Linked DNA regions of Homo sapiens: region 2 is linked to region 1. The links come from fine-mapping of genetic effects on gene expression. A gene starts in region 1. The other region holds a variant in brackets. All regions are shown on one strand. Distances are between the middles of the regions. Region 1 holds the start of PRRC1 (proline rich coiled-coil 1). Region 2 overlaps PRRC1 (proline rich coiled-coil 1).

Region 1 (5,386 bases):
ATTAGGTGGCAAAATTCAGTGACTGGGTATGGAGGAAGGGAAAGGAGGCATGACTTGCACAACTAGATAGATGGTGGTGCCATGCACAAAGATAGGAAACACTGCAGAAGGCCAATGTGTTTGATGTTCTTTCTGGGGGAGTCGGATGGGGGAAATCATAAAATGTTTAGTCTTTGACATGCTGTTTAAGTTCCTTGAAACAAACATCTAAGTAGAGACACTGACTTGGTCTGGAGCTTAGCAACCACATAAATGTGGGTGTCATCAGTGTACTGATAGTCTAACGTCATGTTTTGAGATGAGATTACGTAAGAGAATACCAAGAGAAAAGAGAATATGATGTTAAACCAATTATTGGTTTAGTAAGATGGAAGACAAGTTTGCAGAGAATAAGAGATGAGCTAAAAGAAAGGAAGAAAACCAGGAGACTGTGGTGTCCAAAAGCCAGAGTTTCGCAGTATGAATGGGCAACAGTATTAATGCTGCAGAGAAGCCAAATAGGATACTATCTGAGAAGTTCAATGGATCTGCCAAACTGGAGATGAATTTAGGGAGAACGGTTTTCATATAAAGAGTGGAGAAAGATTCCAGTGTAAACTGAATCGAGCAGTGGCAGGTGAGACTAACACGCATGACACTTTCAAAAAGTTTGGCTGTGAACGTAGGAAAGATCTATGGCACTAAGCAGAGAACAGGGATCCGGGGAGGCTGAATCCTTTCATTCAGTACCTATACATCGAAGGTAAATAACCTGAGATAGAAATGCCCCTTTGGAGATTTTACCACTCCTCAACCAAAGCTCCCTCTTTTCTTCATTTAATTTTTTATTGGTCATTCACCCTCTACTACAGATGCTCCCCAATCCTTACAATGACTAGTAGAAGTCCTATTGTAAGAGAATCCCTAACATTAACAAATGTGTCTGCAAAAGAAACTGTACAATGAATACAAAGTCATTAAGTGGAATAAATAATCAATTTCTTTGTCTTTAATGGCTTTTTATATGAAAACTGCCGTAATGGCAATACTGAGGTAAATTTTACATGCATAAACATAGTGCCTTCTACTAAAAAAACCTATTATGATAAAACAATACTGAAGTGTCAGAGTTGGTAACTGTTTTAGGGCTCAAGTCTTGTCACGAAAAGTACTATTCATATATCAACACTAAAGAAAAAGTGAAGAAAATGGTTTGGAAAACTGAGTTCTCAGTCCGGCTAGACCCTGTTGTTCCAATTTGCTTGTGCCTTGGTTTTTCTGTTAAAAAAAAAAAAAAAAAGTGGATGTCTATTTACAAGTTTACAAGAAATGGAAGAGTGAAGCTCTGATAAACTTTAAAGCATTAAGAGCAATTATTGCTGACCTACTCGTGCCACAAGATTGTCTCTACTACCAAACAGTGAGCGCTAGTTAGAGCCTAATCTGACCCCGAAATAAAATTTTATAAATTTTCACTGAATTAAACACTGGCTGCACAGGAGAAAGACTGAATGCCAAGATGTGTCACGATCGCAGAAATGCACATGTTGTCTCTCAAAATAACTACTTCGAATGACAAAAACACTATTGGCTATAAATTCTGTCAATCTAGGAAACGTGCTATCTGCAAATTTGCCTGAAGCAGGTCCCAAGACCAAACAAAGAAACGAGAGAATGCAAAAACTCTCCCAAGCGGCGCTAAGCACCGATGGGGTAACCTCAGGGAAAATAAGCTTCCTTTCATTGCAGGTCCTGGTGTGATGACTCTCGAGCCTCCTGGGCCTCTCCAGGGCCAGAGCGGCCGAAATCCTGTTTCAGGAGACAGCGGCTTCCCCTCAGGCTCTGCCACGTCTCCAGGCCAGACAGGGCCGGGCTAAGGTCCGCCGGCGCTCCCGCCAGTCTCCCCTAAAGTCAGCGCCCTGGAAGGTGGGGCCAGAGCGCTCCTGCCTTGGTCCTTGGACAGGAGCAAAGTGTCGCGGGGCGAGACCCTCGAACCGCGCCCACCGTGCCATCCCCAGCGGAAACTGCTCACCTTGCGATGTGCACTCCTGCCTGCTGCACCCCGCACGCCGCCACAGCTGAGCCTGGACCACGGGACTAGGGGGCTCGCAAACGACATCGGCGTCCAGTGGCGCCGGCCGGCCCGCCCACCTTCCAGGGACACCGTCCCTCGGGGTCTGGCTCTGGCGCCTGCAAGCCATGCCATGCCATGCCACCCCCCTCATACACGCCCCTCGGAGCCACCTGGCGCTCACCTGGGGACCGGGAAAGTGCCTGCGTGGTCGCTGAAGAGTGTGGTATGATAGGGAGGTCGGGACGTAGAACTACAGCTTGGAGAAGACAACGAAGGCGCACCCTGGAAGTTACCTCGGCGTGTCCCCGCCTACAAGATGGCCACGGGCGGCGCATGCTCCTGCGGCTGCCACGTCGGCCGCGCGCCGCACCGCGCCGCGCGTCGCCGCCCCGCCCCGCTCCGCCCCGCATCGCATCGCCCCGCTCCGCCTCCGCATCGCCCCGCCCCCCCTGTCCCATGCGCTGTGAACCCGGCCGGGACGCTGCAAGTTAAACTTTGGAGCCAAGATCTTCCTAACTACCGAGACTTGGTTCTGCCCACACCCTCTAGAAACATCTTCCAAAGGGCTGGCCTCCTTTCTACTTCGCAGCCCCCTTACACGAGAGTGGCACTCTTGTTACCAGGCGTAGCTCACTCATCCTGTGCCACAGCGGCCCAAGGGATAAGATCAGTTAGCCAAGGTCATCTGGTTGGCGGTCATCTAGCCAACATCAGCTAGTCCAGTCAGCACCTCCAGGAAGGACCTCGCGGCAGATACAGGGGACTTAGCCTGTATAGTCAAAGATTTCCAGATAACAGTGATTATATCAGGAGAGAGGGATTAGGAGAAGAGGGAGAGGGGAGAAGAGTAGCAGTTACTGTACTGAATTTTTCCCCAAGTGCATGTATTGCACATTCTTTTTTTAATTGTAAAATAGACAGATTATCAACTTTCTTATTATATGCTGCACCTAACACAGTACCTGAAATAGTTGGTGTTCAATAATGTACATTAAATAAATTAATGGAGTGCGATAGAGGAAAATAAGGAACTTCAAATCAGAAGTCTTGATTTGAGTCTGAGACTACTCTAATGCCAGTTGTACAGTTGCCTGCCCTTGTACAGGTCACTTAGTCTCCATAAGTCTTCATATTTCTACCTGCAAACTGAGAATAATACTATCCACCATCCCTAAATCAGGCAGGTGACAGACTCAAATAAAATAGAGCATATGAAAATTTTTTAAACTTTTTGTCTTTTTGAGATGGTGTCTTGCCCTGTTGCCCAGGCTGGAGTGCAATGGCGCCATCTCGGCTCACTGCAACCTCTGCCTCCCGGGTTCAAACGATTCTCCTGCCTCAGCCTCCCGAGTAGCTGGGATTACAGGCACAGGCCACCACACCCAGCTAATTTTTGTACTTTTAGTAGAGACAGGGTTTCACCATTTTGGCCAGGCTGGTCTCGAACTCCTGACCTCGGCCCGCCTCGGCCTCCTAAAGTGCTGGGATTACAGGCGTGAGCCACCGCACCTGTCCGAAAACATTTTTTAAATTGCTTAGCATTAAATATATAAAAAATTGTTTTTGTTGTTCTCAATTTTTTTTCAGGAACTCACTTAGAGATTTCACATTAATCTATCTCTTGAGCTTCACAGTTGTAAGCATTCCAAAATACCTCACTGAAAAGTTAATACTATGTAGCAATACTCTGACTTCAGATCTCACTGTGCAACTACCATGGGCGGTTTTCTTTGGCGGTGGCTCCTATCCTCTAAGAATGTGTGTAGGTGGAGATCCAGGTTACTGTCCGGATCGTGCTGTTTGGGGTGGTGCTAAAGACAGATAACCATCTTCATCCTCTCTGATCAACACCCTTAATAGCTATAAGGTATGTTGGTTTCTCCATCCTTTCAGCAAATATTTATTAGTGGCTGCAATGTGCTGAGCATTGGTACTGGAAATGCAGTAACGAACAAGACAGACAAGGTCTTGATACCTAGGGAGCGTTCTTTATAATAGGAGAGAGGGTAGGAACAGGAAAATAAAGTAAGTACTGTTTGTGATGTGCAGTTTGAGGAGTCAACAAAGAGTGATGTAATATTGACAGTAATTGGAGTAGACCACTTCAGATAGGATGAATGGGCAAGGCTTCTCTGAATAGGTGAGATGTGAGCAGAGACGTGTAATGCAGCAGGCCTGTGCTTATCCGGACAGAAAGAAGGGCATGCAAAGACTTAAGGATGGAGTGTGCTCGGCATGTGCGCAGACAACAGGGAAGCAGGACTGTGAGAATGGTAAAGAAGACAGGACAGGGAGTGGGGCCAGATCGTGTCTAGCCTTGTAGGTCATGGGAAAGCCTTTGATTACACTCTGAGAGAAATGAGAAGCACGTGGAGGGTTTTGAGCAGAGAACTGACAATATTTGATATCAATTTCTGATCACACTCTGATTGCTGTGTGACTGCAGTCCATGTGAGGATGAGTGCAGGATGACCAGTAATGAGATGATGATGGCTTAGTGTCCCTAATGGAGGTGGAGGTGGCACACGGTCTGGATGTATTTTGAAGATGGAGCTGTCATGATTTACTGATGGGTTGGGAGTAAGCTGCATTAGTTTCCTAAGATTATCATAACAAATTACTGCAACTAATGTTTTCGTTGGCTAAAAACAACAGAAATTGATTCCTTCACAGTTCTGGGGGCTAGATGTCCAAAATCAAGGTGTCAGCAGGGCCTCTCCAAAGGCTCGAGTGGAGAATCCTTCCTTGCCCCTTCTAGCTTCTGGTGGCTCCAGGTGTTCTTTGGCCTGTGCCAGCATACCTCCAATCTCTGCCTCTGTGCCAGCACACCTCCAATCTCTGCCTCTGTCTCCACATGGCCTTCCCCCCCATGTCTCTGTGTCTCAAATCTCCTTCTGCCTTTCTCTTATAAGCATACTTCCTTATAAGTGCATACTCATTCCGCTAAGGCCCCACCCTAAATCCAGAATGATATCATCTCAATATATTTGTAGGTCTTATGAAGATCCTGTTTCCAAATAAGTTCACAGTAACAAGTTCCAGGTGGGCATATCTTTTTTGGGGGGTGGGCACTATTCAACCCACTACATGGACAATGAGGTAAGATGAGCTTTGAAGTTAACCTTGATTTACATTTACTATATTTTATGTTTTACTTACCACTTTTCATTTGAACTTCAAAAGAACTATGTGTGGCAGGTATTATTATTCCAGTATTAGAAACGTGGAAACTAAGGCTATGAAAATGGTGCATAGAGCTGGAGATGGAACCTAGAATCCTTAGGCTGTACCTCAACTGCTTGCCTGCTTTGTGGGTGGTAAGGTGAGAAGATT
Region 2 (5,348 bases), 32 kb before region 1:
ACATTCAGTAAACTCTTTTCCAGGACTTCACCCACTGTCACCAAAAGGCCTGACCACCTCAGATTATAGTCCTGGGGAGTTAGACTTTGAGCCTGTGGAAAGATGAAATTGATATTACTTATAATACATTTAAAAATATCATTGGAACTAGCTATAAGTGACATTTCAAAGTGTTTCATGTTATTTTAAATATAGATTATGACAAACTCTGAGAAATACAGCTAGGCTGCCAACTATATCAACTTACAAGGCTAGAACACAATCAATGTAACATTACACACATCTATTTTTTAAAAAATATCCCCATTAACGAGGCTAACAGTCGGAAGGTTTGAGTTCTAGTTCTAAATTAAGTGTCACTTCAGGTTAATAATAAGATTGGTACTAAAATCAGTGCTAAAGTTATCTTTTATAGTAGTAAAATTTCAACCAGAAAGAGGAAAACTGAAAATTAAGGCTTAAATCCATTCAGAAAAGAATTGCTCAATTATGGAAATTCTCTCTGGAAATGTGATTCACATGTTAATATGTATCAAGTAATATCCAGTCCTGGACAACATCAACCACTGATGCAACATTCCTAATTGACCCAACTCATATTTGCTCCTATTCAAATCATTTATTCATCTACAAAGGAATGACAGAAGAATAAACTCATTGCTTGATATCCAAGACTGATGTGGTTTTTCTGTTTTAGGGTGTTAGGTATAGTCCAGAGAAGTATAGCCACATCTAGAACGGATCTATACAGTTATACATGACTACCAAATGTGCCATGTATTACAATCACCTGAGGAGCTCTTGTTTCTTTTTTCTTTTTTAACGATATCCAGTTTCTCACATCCCACTAAGATAACTGAGACACCAAGATAACTGAATTGGAAACTCTACAGCTGGTTCCAAGAGAAACAGTACAGTATTACGTACGTAAAATAGCTTCCAAGTCAATCTGATGCAAACAGTCCAGCACTTGGGAACCCCTGCTCTAAGTACTCTCTTCCAATGTGTATACTACAGTATCAGTATTTCACTATATTTCAAAGAGAAACAGCAGATATACTACTAACGTCCTCAGAGACACCAGTAACACTGTGCTTCTCAAATTATGGCATGCCTATGAATCCCCTGAATATCTTGTTAAAATGCAGCTCCTGATTCACTAGTCCTGTGTTAGGACCCGAGAATCTGCATTTTAACAAATTTCTAGGTGCTGCTTATGATGTTAAGCCAAGGACCACACTTTTTAGAAACAAGGTATTCTATATTATTGGCAAAAATCCAGAACAGCTGGGGTTTTTTATGGGGGTGAGGAATCATTTATATTTAAGTTTAACAAGTACAAATTGTATGAAATTTATTTCCAGATTTTTACTAATATATACTGATAATTCTAATTACCTGAAGGGCTGATTTCCATTACCTTAAATTAAAAAATTCCAACAATAAAAAAGCATAAAACATTTTAGAATGAATAAAAAGAAACAGGGAGGAGAGCTGAATAGCTGAGGATAAAAAGAAGACATTTCAATGCACACAGTTTTGTATCTTCTAAATTTTAAAACCAAATGACACAAAATAAAACAAACAGAATAAAAAGCAAAGTAAAAAGCAAATAACACCCTTTAAATACCATTATTCAGAATTAACCACTATTAACAGTTTGCTGTGTTATCTTTCCAGGCCTTTTTCCCTATTCTTATTAAAATTTTAAAGCACACACATACACACGCCTGCTAGTAAATGGGATCATACTAGATGTGCTGTTTTTGACTTTTACTCAGCAATATGTAATAGCTATCTTTTGGTACTGGTACACACGAGTCCACTTCATTCTTTCATGTCTACTTCTTTCCAGTATATATTCCTAAAAACAACATAAAAATTGTCCTTTGCAATGGTCAGATATCTAACACAGGGGTCAGCAAACTTTTTCTGAAAAGAGCCAGATGGTAAATATTTTAGGCTTTGTGGGCCAGACATTCTCTGTTGCAACTATTCATTTCTGCTGCTATAGTACAAAAGCAGCTATAAACAATAAGTAAGCAAACTGGCATGGGTGTGTTCCAATAAACTTAATTACAAAAAGATGACAGGCCAGATTTGGCTGTGAGCCACTGTTTGCTGACCCCAGATCTACAGCAATGTTAACAGTGGCAGTGACAGGAGCATCCTCATAATTATAACGTTTTCAGTGTTTTATTTATTAGATCTGAAGTTTGCTTTGATTTTGTAGTACACACATACCCGTCTAATACTAAGAGCTATTAGTATGATTATTTCTAGCAAATACCTTCAACTCTTATCAAAATCTTTTTTCTCCTTTCAATGCAGAT[GTTC/C]ATGTACTGAATTACATAAATTTACTATTGTTGAACCATTCTGCTGTTCTTGGGACAAATTTTTCATGGTCAGGATACAATGTTCATCTAATACATTTCTGAATTTTATTTATTAATTTTACCAATGGTTTTGACATTTAGTTCTTTGGACTATAATTTCATTTAAAGTTAAAAGAGGCTAGTCTCACAGAATGAACTGGAAAACTCTCTACCTCTATTTTTGATACCTCATACAGCAAATCATCTCTGAACATTTTGTAGAACTCACTTGTAACACCATTGGTACTCAGTGATTTTTTTTTTTTTAGTTACATAAAGTTCTTCCATTTTAATGCTTCAATTAAGCTGAATCATATGAAACTGACAATATATAACTATTTCTGACCATCAAAGGCAACAACGTCATTTGGTTCAACCTAATACTCTTAACTATGGCAAAACTTCTATTTTCCTAGAAAATCCACTCTTTCACCTAATTTTTCTAATTTATTGGCATAACAGTATGCATAGTATTCACTTACAGTCTTTTAATCACCTTCATATTGAAATGAGTGTAATGTTAATATCTATAAAAAGGTTTTCTTGAACTTATGAAAAGAAATTACGGTATAAATAAAAGTTTCAGTAAAATTTCAAATTCCAAGCATCAATTCTTAGCCCCCTTTCTAAACTGTAATAAGTAGGCCAGAGGTTACTTTTAGGGATTATGTGAACACATATGCCAAAGTTCTATGAAAGTACACATACACGCATTTTTCTTGGGAGACAGCCCAATAGTTTTCTTAGATTCTCAAATGTCTTCATGTCCCAAATAAGTTTGAAAGGCAGTTTTGAAATGATATTTAACAATGTACAAACTACAACTGTAACAAAAATTTTATGAAATTGACAGAAAAAAGTCAATAGAATACCACTTAAGAGCACAGAGATTCCAATGCAAGTATATATTTATATTCCATTTTGTTCATGAAAGGATTAGAGAAAACACACCAAAAAAAAAAAAAAAGAGGAATAAGGATTATCATTTATACTTACATTCTCCTGGAAACTGTGTGGATAGGTACACTATTAGGTCCATTTTTCAGCCAAAAACCTAAAGACACGTGCCTATAAGGTTTCTAATGTTGATTTCACTAAAGATGAACAGGAGGACAATCAATCAAGGAAAAGGGAAATGGAGATAACAGTGGAAATGAAATGTGAGATAAAAGGGAAAGCAAACGAAAGGCGGACATAAAACAACTAGAAAAGGTAAATCTTTTCCAGAACTCAGAGTAAAAACAAAGAAAAAAATGAGAGAAATAATGATTAACCATGTAATGTATTACCTTTCAAAGACACCTGGAAAACAAAAGGAGGAAGGTACTAAAACAACATGGAAGGATCAGGAAATTAAAAAGCAAAGAAAAATACTAAAAGAAAAATGACTGAAACAAAATCAAGAACATATTTCTAACAAAAAAACCGAACAAATTTTTATTCTGAAAACAATAGTGTAAGTTTCTCTGGAGCATAATGAAAAAGCAAAGGAGAAAACCAACCTGCTGTACAAATTCCAAAGGCACTGGTGTGGCTTGTGTAAATGTTTCTAGATGAATGCCATGGACAGGATCTTCAACCACCAAACAACCAATGTCAAACCATCTGCAACAGAATTACGAGTTTCAAATGGTTTATATGCCAAATAAAACTTATCATGAATAGACAAAAAGAAAAAACAAGTACTATTATTCAGATAGAACAGATTTCAAAAAGGAAATCTTTTTCTTACCAACTTGCAAAAGGACAATTCATAAAAACAACAGATAAAATTACTCTGTATTAATTCTAAGAGGAAAAAAGACAATAACCACAAAGAAAAAAAATTTAAAAATACTTATCATGGAAAGCTTCCTCTCCATGGGAAGGGAGAATAATCAAAGTAAGGGTACTCAAATATGCAACAGGTAAATTTACATACATTGAATATGCAAACAGCTTATGAGTAATATTTTTCAATTGTCACTTGCTAAAATATGGGAAATTTTATAATACAAACTCTATCATGAATATGTACTCAACTAAGTTACTAACAAATTAAAAAATAAGCTCAGAGGAAATAATAACAAATACTCTCTTCATTAATAATAAATCCTTCTAATCACAATTTCTGAATTATTCACAATGAGTCAGTCTTTGAAAACAGCCTCATGAAATCCAGGAAACTTCTCTTCATTTAAAGAGACTTATATATCATACAAAATGATAAATTTTAAAAATGACTTTATTGAAAACAACTGTAGTACCACCCAAATTTTAGCTAACCCAAATCATGAAACAGCCAGATACCCTCAAAAATGAATTTAAACAATAAAAGGATATGAAGCAGGAAAATGTTTAATGCCTATTTTTTAATGTAAATCTAATAAAATGCAATGAAATATAAAATGGATTAGGAGACTTTTATTTACACATTCAAAAAAACAACAAAGTAAAATATACAGTAACATAAATAACTTTGCTGAATACTAAAATGGCACTTTATAATGTCTATAGTGTTCATATCCTAAAACTTTAAAATTAAAAACATTAAATAATGACATTTATTTTATTTGGTAGACTAATAGATATTTTGTATTTTACTACAACTTTCTCAATCAAGATAATGTATTTGTGAAGCCTCCATAAAGTCGAGCTTAGCTAAATTTTATTTTGCCTTATTTTGCATAATTTGCAGACAATAATCTCTATGGTGAATAACATACTAACCAAGCTTTCAGGTGTGGACATCCTAAAAAGTGTTACTGAAGGTATGAGGAAAGTTTTTTCTATGATGCCAGTGAATATACCTTAGAACACCGACCTAGACTTGACTCAGCTCAGACTGTGACTGAAGTACACTACATTACCCTCCCCTTCCTCACACCCCTACAATTGTGTATATTATTATAGAGGAAAGGATGAACCTTCTCAAGATCACTTAAAGACTCTAGAGTTTTGTTTTCTAAACAATGGTTTTCAAAGATTACTATG

The links. PIP is the estimated chance that this variant, and not a neighbour inherited with it, causes the effect.
Region 2: its variant is the best candidate, but not a certain one, in a credible set for the expression of PRRC1 in breast (GTEx, PIP 0.79).

What each region holds. Positions count from the first base shown.
Region 1 is chr5:127,514,625-127,520,010 of GRCh38, reverse strand. PRRC1 (proline rich coiled-coil 1) reads right to left here and starts at 2,371. Exons shown (of 9, transcript NM_130809.5): 1 at 2,235-2,371. RefSeq lists an enhancer at 2,194-2,373 and a silencer at 2,434-2,503.
Region 2 is chr5:127,546,451-127,551,798 of GRCh38, reverse strand. It overlaps PRRC1 (proline rich coiled-coil 1), which reads right to left. Exons shown (of 9, transcript NM_130809.5): 8 at 3,878-3,980; 9 at 1-92. Among named protein-coding and RNA genes, the nearest start is that of PRRC1, 31 kb to the right of the region's middle. The variant GTTC/C (reference allele first, on the strand shown) is at 2,334.